Linked DNA regions of Homo sapiens. The protein of the gene in region 1 interacts with the protein of each later gene in a pairwise test. Each region holds a gene or a part of one and is shown on either strand. Other genes may lie near its edges.

Region 1 (3,500 bases):
TCAAAAGTCAGGATCTGTTTATCCAAGCTGGCTGTTCTCATTTGCTCAGCTGCCTCCGATTGGCTGGGGCAGTAACACCGGCTGGTCTTTTGATGGGCTGATCCAGTGGCCCAGGCTGGGCCCCCTCCAATCTCCGCCGGAGCCGGGGAAAGGTGGCATTGCCATTTCTCTCTTAGAGAGGAGGAAACTGGGGACTCGAGCAGGTTAGGGCCTTGCTGAAGGTCCCATGGCAAATAAGGAAATGACGGTGGCGTTGGAAACCAGATCTGCCTGACTCCAAGTTCCAGGCTCTTTCCAATGCTCCTGGCTTCAATCAAATCTGAACAATAGGGTCAAGATGAAGGCTTTAAAATAGGGACCAAACCGCTTTCAAAAAGCTATTTGGCAGCACCTACGTGTCTGCCCAGTAAATCGCTCTCTTCCATCTCCTTTCTCCTCCAGCAGGGCATTGGGTCTTGACCTCAGAGCGATGGGTGCCTGGTGTCTGAACCAGGGTGAGGCTGCTGTCTGCCTAGCTCCCCCGCCCTGCCTGTGCAGAGGCCTCTCCCATCTGACTCCCAATTCTCTTCTGCAGGTTGTCACATCTTCCCAAGCCAGGCCAGCCAGGAGCGCTGCATGCAAATTCTGCCGTGGGCTAAGGCACGCTAACCAGAGCCGGCGGCATGGACTTCGTCATGAAGCAGGCCCTTGGAGGTGAGGTCCAGCGCCCCTCCGCGTGTCCTCAGCCGGTCCCACCCTTGTGGGAGGTGGCCTCGGCCCACCCGGCCCCTCTCTCCCCAGCCCTGACCCCTAGCTGACCCCGCCCTCTCCTTCCCACCCCTTCCTCGTAGGGGCCACAAAGGACATGGGGAAGATGCTGGGGGGAGAGGAGGAGAAGGACCCCGACGCGCAGAAAAAGGAGGAGGAGCGGCAGGAGGCGCTGCGGCAGCAGGAGGAGGAGCGTAAGGCCAAGCACGCGCGCATGGAGGCGGAGCGGGAGAAGGTCCGGCAGCAGATCCGAGATAAGGTCAGCTCCGCCCGCCCGCCCGTCCTGGGGAGGGCCACAAGCGGGTAAAACCGGTCCAGCTAAAGCCCCTGCTGGGGCTCCCCTGGATCCCAGCTCTCACCTTCGCCCTAGTTCTGAGCCTCACTCTTCTCATCAGCAAAACGGGTATCACAAGGTCACCTCCCTCAAGGGATCCTTTTGGGGATTAAATAAGAGAATGCGCGTAGTAGGTACTCCAAGAGGGTGGACCCTACGGTCCACCATTTCGTACTGCAGATCTTTGGGACCAAAAATGAGTGCAGTTCTGAATTTGGGAATGTTCGAAAAATACCACAGTGTCCTAAGCACTTTGTGCTGTCAGCTGTCACTCCCAGCGGGTCTGGGGCTGCCACCCTACTCCAGACAGTCCAGTGCATGTCTGTTAGTGCGTGCAATAAATAAAGGCTAGAAGTAGTCTTCCATTGGTTCAAGTCAGATTCGTCACCAAAATTTGGCTCAAAATATATGGGCAAACGCCATGTGTTCAGATCTTTGGGGGTTTCAACACAGCAGGAAGTTCTGATGGGCAGGTGTTAATTTTAAAGGAAACCCCACGTATGGTCTCTCCCACTGAGGACCAGGCACCATCCTACAGGGAAGACACCCTTATCCCCACTTTACTAATGACAGGACTGAGGCTTGGGAGGCACTCCTGGCCACCTCAGCCAGTGCTGCATGATCATGAGACTCCTGCTGTCTCCTTGCCCACCCCGCTTCATGCGCGTCTCTGCCCTCCCCCTCCCCAGTATGGGCTGAAGAAGAAGGAGGAGAAGGAAGCAGAGGAGAAAGCAGCCCTGGAGCAGCCCTGCGAGGGGAGCCTGACCCGGCCCAAGAAGGCCATCCCTGCGGGCTGCGGGGACGAGGAGGAGGAGGAAGAGGAGAGCATCCTGGACACGGTGCTCAAATACCTGCCCGGGCCGCTGCAGGACATGTTCAAGAAGTAACCAGGCCTCCTGCCCCAGCCTACTCCACCTGTTACTACTTCTTTTTGGTTCTTTCTTTTCTTTTTATTAGGTTAAGTCTCAATTCTGAAGGGGAAAACCTCAGTTGGCCTCTGCCCCTCTTCCCTGGCCAGGGGCTTCTCCCCCTCAGCTCTCCCTCACACCTCCCTTCATCCCAGGGTATCCACCTGCACCCCACTCCCAAGTAGCTTGAAAAAGGGAGGACAGTCTTTCCCCAGCAGGGGTCAGGGGGGCCCCTCAGGAAGCCTAAGGTCGTGCTAGTGTGGTGACCCCCATACATTCCTCCCTGCTCCCCACTGCCAGGAGGACCACTGTCCCCAGCCAGCCAAAGTAATGACACATTCCAGCCCTGCCCAGCATGCTGACCTTTGGCCTCTAACCCTCAGTGGGCCCCCAGGTCAGGGCAGGGGCACTGAGTGGCCTGGCTCTGAGGAAGGGAGTCAGGGGAAGCCTGTCCCGGGAAGGCCCAGGCTGAGAGGCCCTGGCTCTGGCCAGGCTGGGATCTGGGTGGGAGGCTGGGGCTCTTCTTCTTCCATCTCCTTGGTGACACCCAGCCCAGGGGCACCCCCTTCCCCAGCCCCCACCTGGAGAGACATGGCCCCTGCCAAGCTGGTCCCTTCAAATGGATCCTTTGTGGACTTTAGCTCATTTGTGGAGGAACCCCAGGTAGGGACGCCCCTTGTTCCTCACCCCCACCCCACTTAGGTCCTGGGCCCCCACTGCCAGGCTGGGCCCAGCTTGCTCAGTCAAGGGGCTGCCAGGCCCCCAGAAAACACTTGGAGCCATCGGGTAGCGATGGTCTATGCCATGGGGAACACCTCCATTGGTGTGGCCAAGCTGCCCCCATTCCTATCCACCCCTCTCCCCACCCCGTCCTGTCCATGCGCTTCCAGGGCCCCACGGTCCCCAGGAGGACGCTTCCTGGCCAAAGCCCCAAGCCTTTGGTGAGAAGCCAATTCCCACTTGACAGAAGGCGTCCATCCATTCATCTCATTGGCCAAGGACAAACTCTCCTCTGGGACGTCTGGGACTGGCATTTGTCCCCCACTCAAATTATCAAAGCTTTCTGCTCAGTCAGTTGTGTGGGGATGGTGAGGGAAGAGGGGTCACATGAGGGAGGAAACTGTATCCATGCATGCATGATAATGCGTGGCAGAGACTGCAACAGGGATTGTGTGTTCAGAGATCATATGCATATGTGTAGGGCTGGAGCGTGTGTGTGTCTTGAGATTGTGTGTGTTGCAGTCATCATATCTATGTGTTACAGATTGTGTATGTTAGCCTTGTGTATGTGTGCTTGATTGAGGTGGTGTATTTGGGTTGAAATTGTGTCATATGTGTGTGCTATCCATCTCGTGTTTAGAGGCTGTATATGTTAGCTTGTGTAAGAATGTGTTTTCAAAACAGTGTGTGTATTGGGAGTGATGGGTATGTGTTAGGTATGTGATGGGTTGTAGAAGCGTGTGTTTGAGAGAATTCAGAGACATTTGAAGGCTGCTGTGTGCATGTTTGGG
Region 2 (4,030 bases), on another chromosome or scaffold:
TCCTGTGTATAACTTAAAATGGCTATGCTTAACCTAAGCAGATTTAAGCAAAACTTGATTTAGTATGTTATATAAATACAATATCAAATCAAAAAGTATATAGCCTCATTTAAAAGGTAAAGTATCTTAGAAAAAGTCTCAAACATGGACATTTCCTTGGCTATCAATAGGTCTATACTGTGATAAACATTATAGATTTAAAATTCAACAAACTGAACATTGTCAGTGTGATTCTGGTCACATAGGCCAAATCCAGCCAAATGCCAAAATGACACTAGATTTAGAATGGAAAATTTTAAGATCACATGTGTCAAGCAGTATTAACCTGACAAAATTCCAGAAGAGGAAAGAATTTGGATAAACTCTTAAGAGTTCACCATAATGGGATGTGACTGTGTGTTTCTAGCCAAGATGATATGTGACAGTTCTGGCAATAAGAATATATCCTACACAGATGAATCATTTTGGCAATGATGTAAGCATAGATACATCATGATTTAGAATGTTTTTAATCAGTGTTGTGCATACTAGACAATCCCACTTCTGCCAAAACCTCTGTCCAGATGAGTCATATCAGTTTATTTAGAGCTGAAATCCTAAAAGGTCTACAGCGTTATAAATGTTCATCGACATTTTTTAGTTACTCTAATTTGGAGAAGAGTTTATTTGGTCTATACCCTTATCGTGCATAAAATAATAACCCTTTCCAAATATATTGATATCAAGTAGTGAGTTACTTGAATTGCTACTTGTGAATATATGATGCTAATTATTTTAATCTGTGATGGAATTTCCTTTAAAGGATGAAGATTTACACCATTATTCTCCAGTTGGGTATGATTTTTAAAATTAGCATAGGTTTTCTGTGTGCAAGCTCTCCTTACAGGCTTAATGTTTCAACAGCTTTGCTGATCAGATACAAATCAGGAAAGGGATAGAATGTTAGATGATGTAGAAGGGAACCAAAAGAAAGTTTTCTCCCTTCTGCATCTGGAAGGTTTGTTGCTTCATGTACATCCTGTACAGCTAAAAAGGAGAATTGAAGTCGTAGTGAAAGAGTTCGGATATTAGTTTCTACATGCAATCTAGTTTATAAAGGTTGCTTTGCATTTATCAAGATACAAGAGCCCCAGAGATTTATGAGATAAAAAATACTCTTTAAGCCCTTTTTCAAATGTTTGGGATTTTGAGGTCAGATGTCAGATCCAGGGTGTTCTCTTCCTTTTGAATTATCCAACCAGGCCACTCAGATTCAAGGACGTGAAAGGAAGAAAGAATTAGTGGATTATTTCTAATTTGCGGATTAGTGCTAGGAAAAGAATAATAGCAGGGAAGTTTGGCTTCTTTTAGCTGTGCATTTTAACATTATTCATATGTAGCAGAAACCAGAAGATTGGGTTCCATTCTCCAAGAATTTGCTCTCATATGATGCCACTTGAAATATAATGCAGTATATGGAGCTCATAAAAAGGGAAGGAAAAAAAATTCTCATGCAAAACATTTAGTTCCAACTGAAACATTGAAATTCTTATTTTTTCTCTAAACTTAAGCAAACCTGAAAGAATTTGCTTTCCTGATGAGTATTCTGATACATTTCAAAAGTCATGAGAAAATGAGGGAAAAATCAGTCAGATAATAATAAAATTTAAACCATATGAAATTGCAAATATCCAACCATTTTTGGCCTACAAACTTGGTACCATTATCTGGTCATTTTTGAGCTACAAAAATGGTAATTTTGTGTGGTTCAGCCTAACACATTATTGTAGAAATCCATTATTTGCAACAATATGACAATTTTGCCTGATGGAGTAGAAGTATATTAGAATGCTATGGAAAGACTTTGCTTAGATATAAATCAGTAATAGGTTCAGCATGTTCTAGAGAAAACAACTGATTTATGAGGGTTTTGTTGTTCACATTTTTGTGTACATCTATTTTTTTAAAAGAGATCATTTATTTTACAGTATTTCCAAAGTTTGTCTCTCGAATATCGTTTTTTGTAATGGTCCATGGTCATTATGGGACTAATTTACAAGGAGATTATGTAATTTAGGCTTGTAATTCGTTCTTGCCCTTTTATTCTTATGCTCCACCAATCATATTAGGGTGAGAGTAGGTGGAAATAAATAGGTTTAGGGGAATGGAACAAAACAAGTTTTATTGTTCTATTTTTAACCATAAAGTAAGACAGGAACAGGACTTGGGGGCACAAGTCCAGGAAAGCAGAACTCAGTCAGAGGAATACAAAGGGGCTTTGTCTTTGACCCAGGATTCCCAGATATCCCCTGGGTGGTCTGTCTACCCGGTCGTGCCCAGGGAATGAGGGAGTGACAGACCCTGTAAAGGTTGGGCAGCAAGAGGCAACATCAGGACACTGAACTAAACATAGACCCTGGGGAGAAATACCTAGTATCTACATTTGGACTAAACTCTCAGAAAGTCACAGCTGGGCAGTCTTGACCAGATGGATATACAGAAGCTCACAACCGAAACAGGTTCACAGTTATTGTCAAGGAAACCCTGCATTTCACCAAGGCTACTTTATTACTCAAGAACCAAAATATAGACAGATGGAGCCCAACAGAGGGATTCTATAGCCCCTTCTCTACACTGATTGGTGTAGCAACACTAACATTATTTTGCCTCATCAGTAAAATAAATTTCACATCAGCCTACTATTCATCTTGTGTGTATGTGTGTCTTTATAGCCTATGTGCATAATATATATTATATATCACATTAGCTGTATTATATATCATATGCAATATGATATGTAGTAAGCTCATGTTATGTATTTATATGTATACAATGTGTTTATAACATATATTATGTAATATATATTGCTTGAATATTTAAATAGAAGCTATTCTCTGTGTATACTATCTGGTATATAGGAGTCCAACATTTTGTATGTAAATATATAAAATATATTTGAATAGGATATGCCATATATACATATGTTTATATATCACATTTGTATTCTATACGAAAAGAAATTAAGCAATGACCATAGCATATATTATGGGCCACATTTATACTTATACACACTGGTCTTATATAATGTACATACACACAATATCTAAATACTTTAAACAAGGAAGAGCTATAAGCAAATTCATTTCTAGGGCTCTCTTTTACAGCTATCTAGTGAAGAAAAATCATTCCTAAGACTAAAACCCAATGCTCTGGTTAGAATTTTCAAAATGTGACAAGTCTCTAGTACAAAGAATAAGATGTGTGTGTTCCCCCTGATGTGAGCATCTGTCTTTACTTAAACAGAGTACACCTTTATTCTTACTCTTAACTCTGAGACAAAACAGGCTGCAATAAACCAAACAATTCAGCTTGTAAAGTAAATGTTTATAACTGGCAAAGTGTAAATGTAACCCAATTAATAAACTTCTCCCTGAAAATAGATGTTACTCAACCCAGACATATATACACTTTAAATTTCTTCTCAAAAACACAAAAATCATGAATTTATGTGGATGACATTGAAAAACAGGCATCTTATAAACATGAGCTACTTAGTGAAGCTTTTCTAAGAATAAAATAGGCTTTAAGCAGATTTTGCTTATGGATTATAGTCTCTGAATTTTTGAGACGAATGTAGTAATTTTATTTCCATATATGAAATTTGGCACTGCCCAGGCATGCTATAAACAGCTTCATTGACTCATGATATTAAATGTTTTCACACTGAAACTGAAAGATCATCCATCAATCAGCAAGCCATCCCATTTCCTCCTTCTTAGCCATTCCTTACTTTGAGGAACTCAGGATGAGGAAATCCTGCTAGTGTGGAGAGGTTTAAAATGTGAGTAGCACCCAGCGGCATCTCTCAGCTGCTGTGTTGTGGCTATGTATACTGGGACAGGCGCGAAAATCTGGGACTGAAGAAAAATCTGACTTACAAAATCCAGAAGTATTATACAAAGTAGATCAATTTGCCTACGATTATTCATTGAAAACCAAACAACAACAAAAAAATCACCCAGACTGTCTCCAATAGCAAAACCACTAAATA

The links.
Region 2: the proteins of CPLX2 (region 1) and PTCHD1 interact in a two-hybrid assay, tested with the Homo sapiens proteins (one study listed by BioGRID and IntAct).

The regions. Positions count from the first base shown.
Region 1 is NC_000005.10:175,878,078-175,881,577, forward strand, and holds part of CPLX2 (complexin-2), read left to right. Parts: intron 1-574; 5' UTR 575-662; coding exon 663-693; intron 694-830; coding exon 831-1,006; intron 1,007-1,770; coding exon 1,771-1,968; 3' UTR 1,969-3,500. UniProt on the Homo sapiens protein: Negatively regulates the formation of synaptic vesicle clustering at active zone to the presynaptic membrane in postmitotic neurons.
Region 2 is NC_000023.11:23,383,144-23,387,173, forward strand, and holds part of PTCHD1 (patched domain-containing protein 1), read left to right. Parts: intron 1-4,030. UniProt on the Homo sapiens protein: Required for the development and function of the thalamic reticular nucleus (TRN), a part of the thalamus that is critical for thalamocortical transmission, generation of sleep rhythms, sensorimotor processing and attention. Can bind cholesterol in vitro.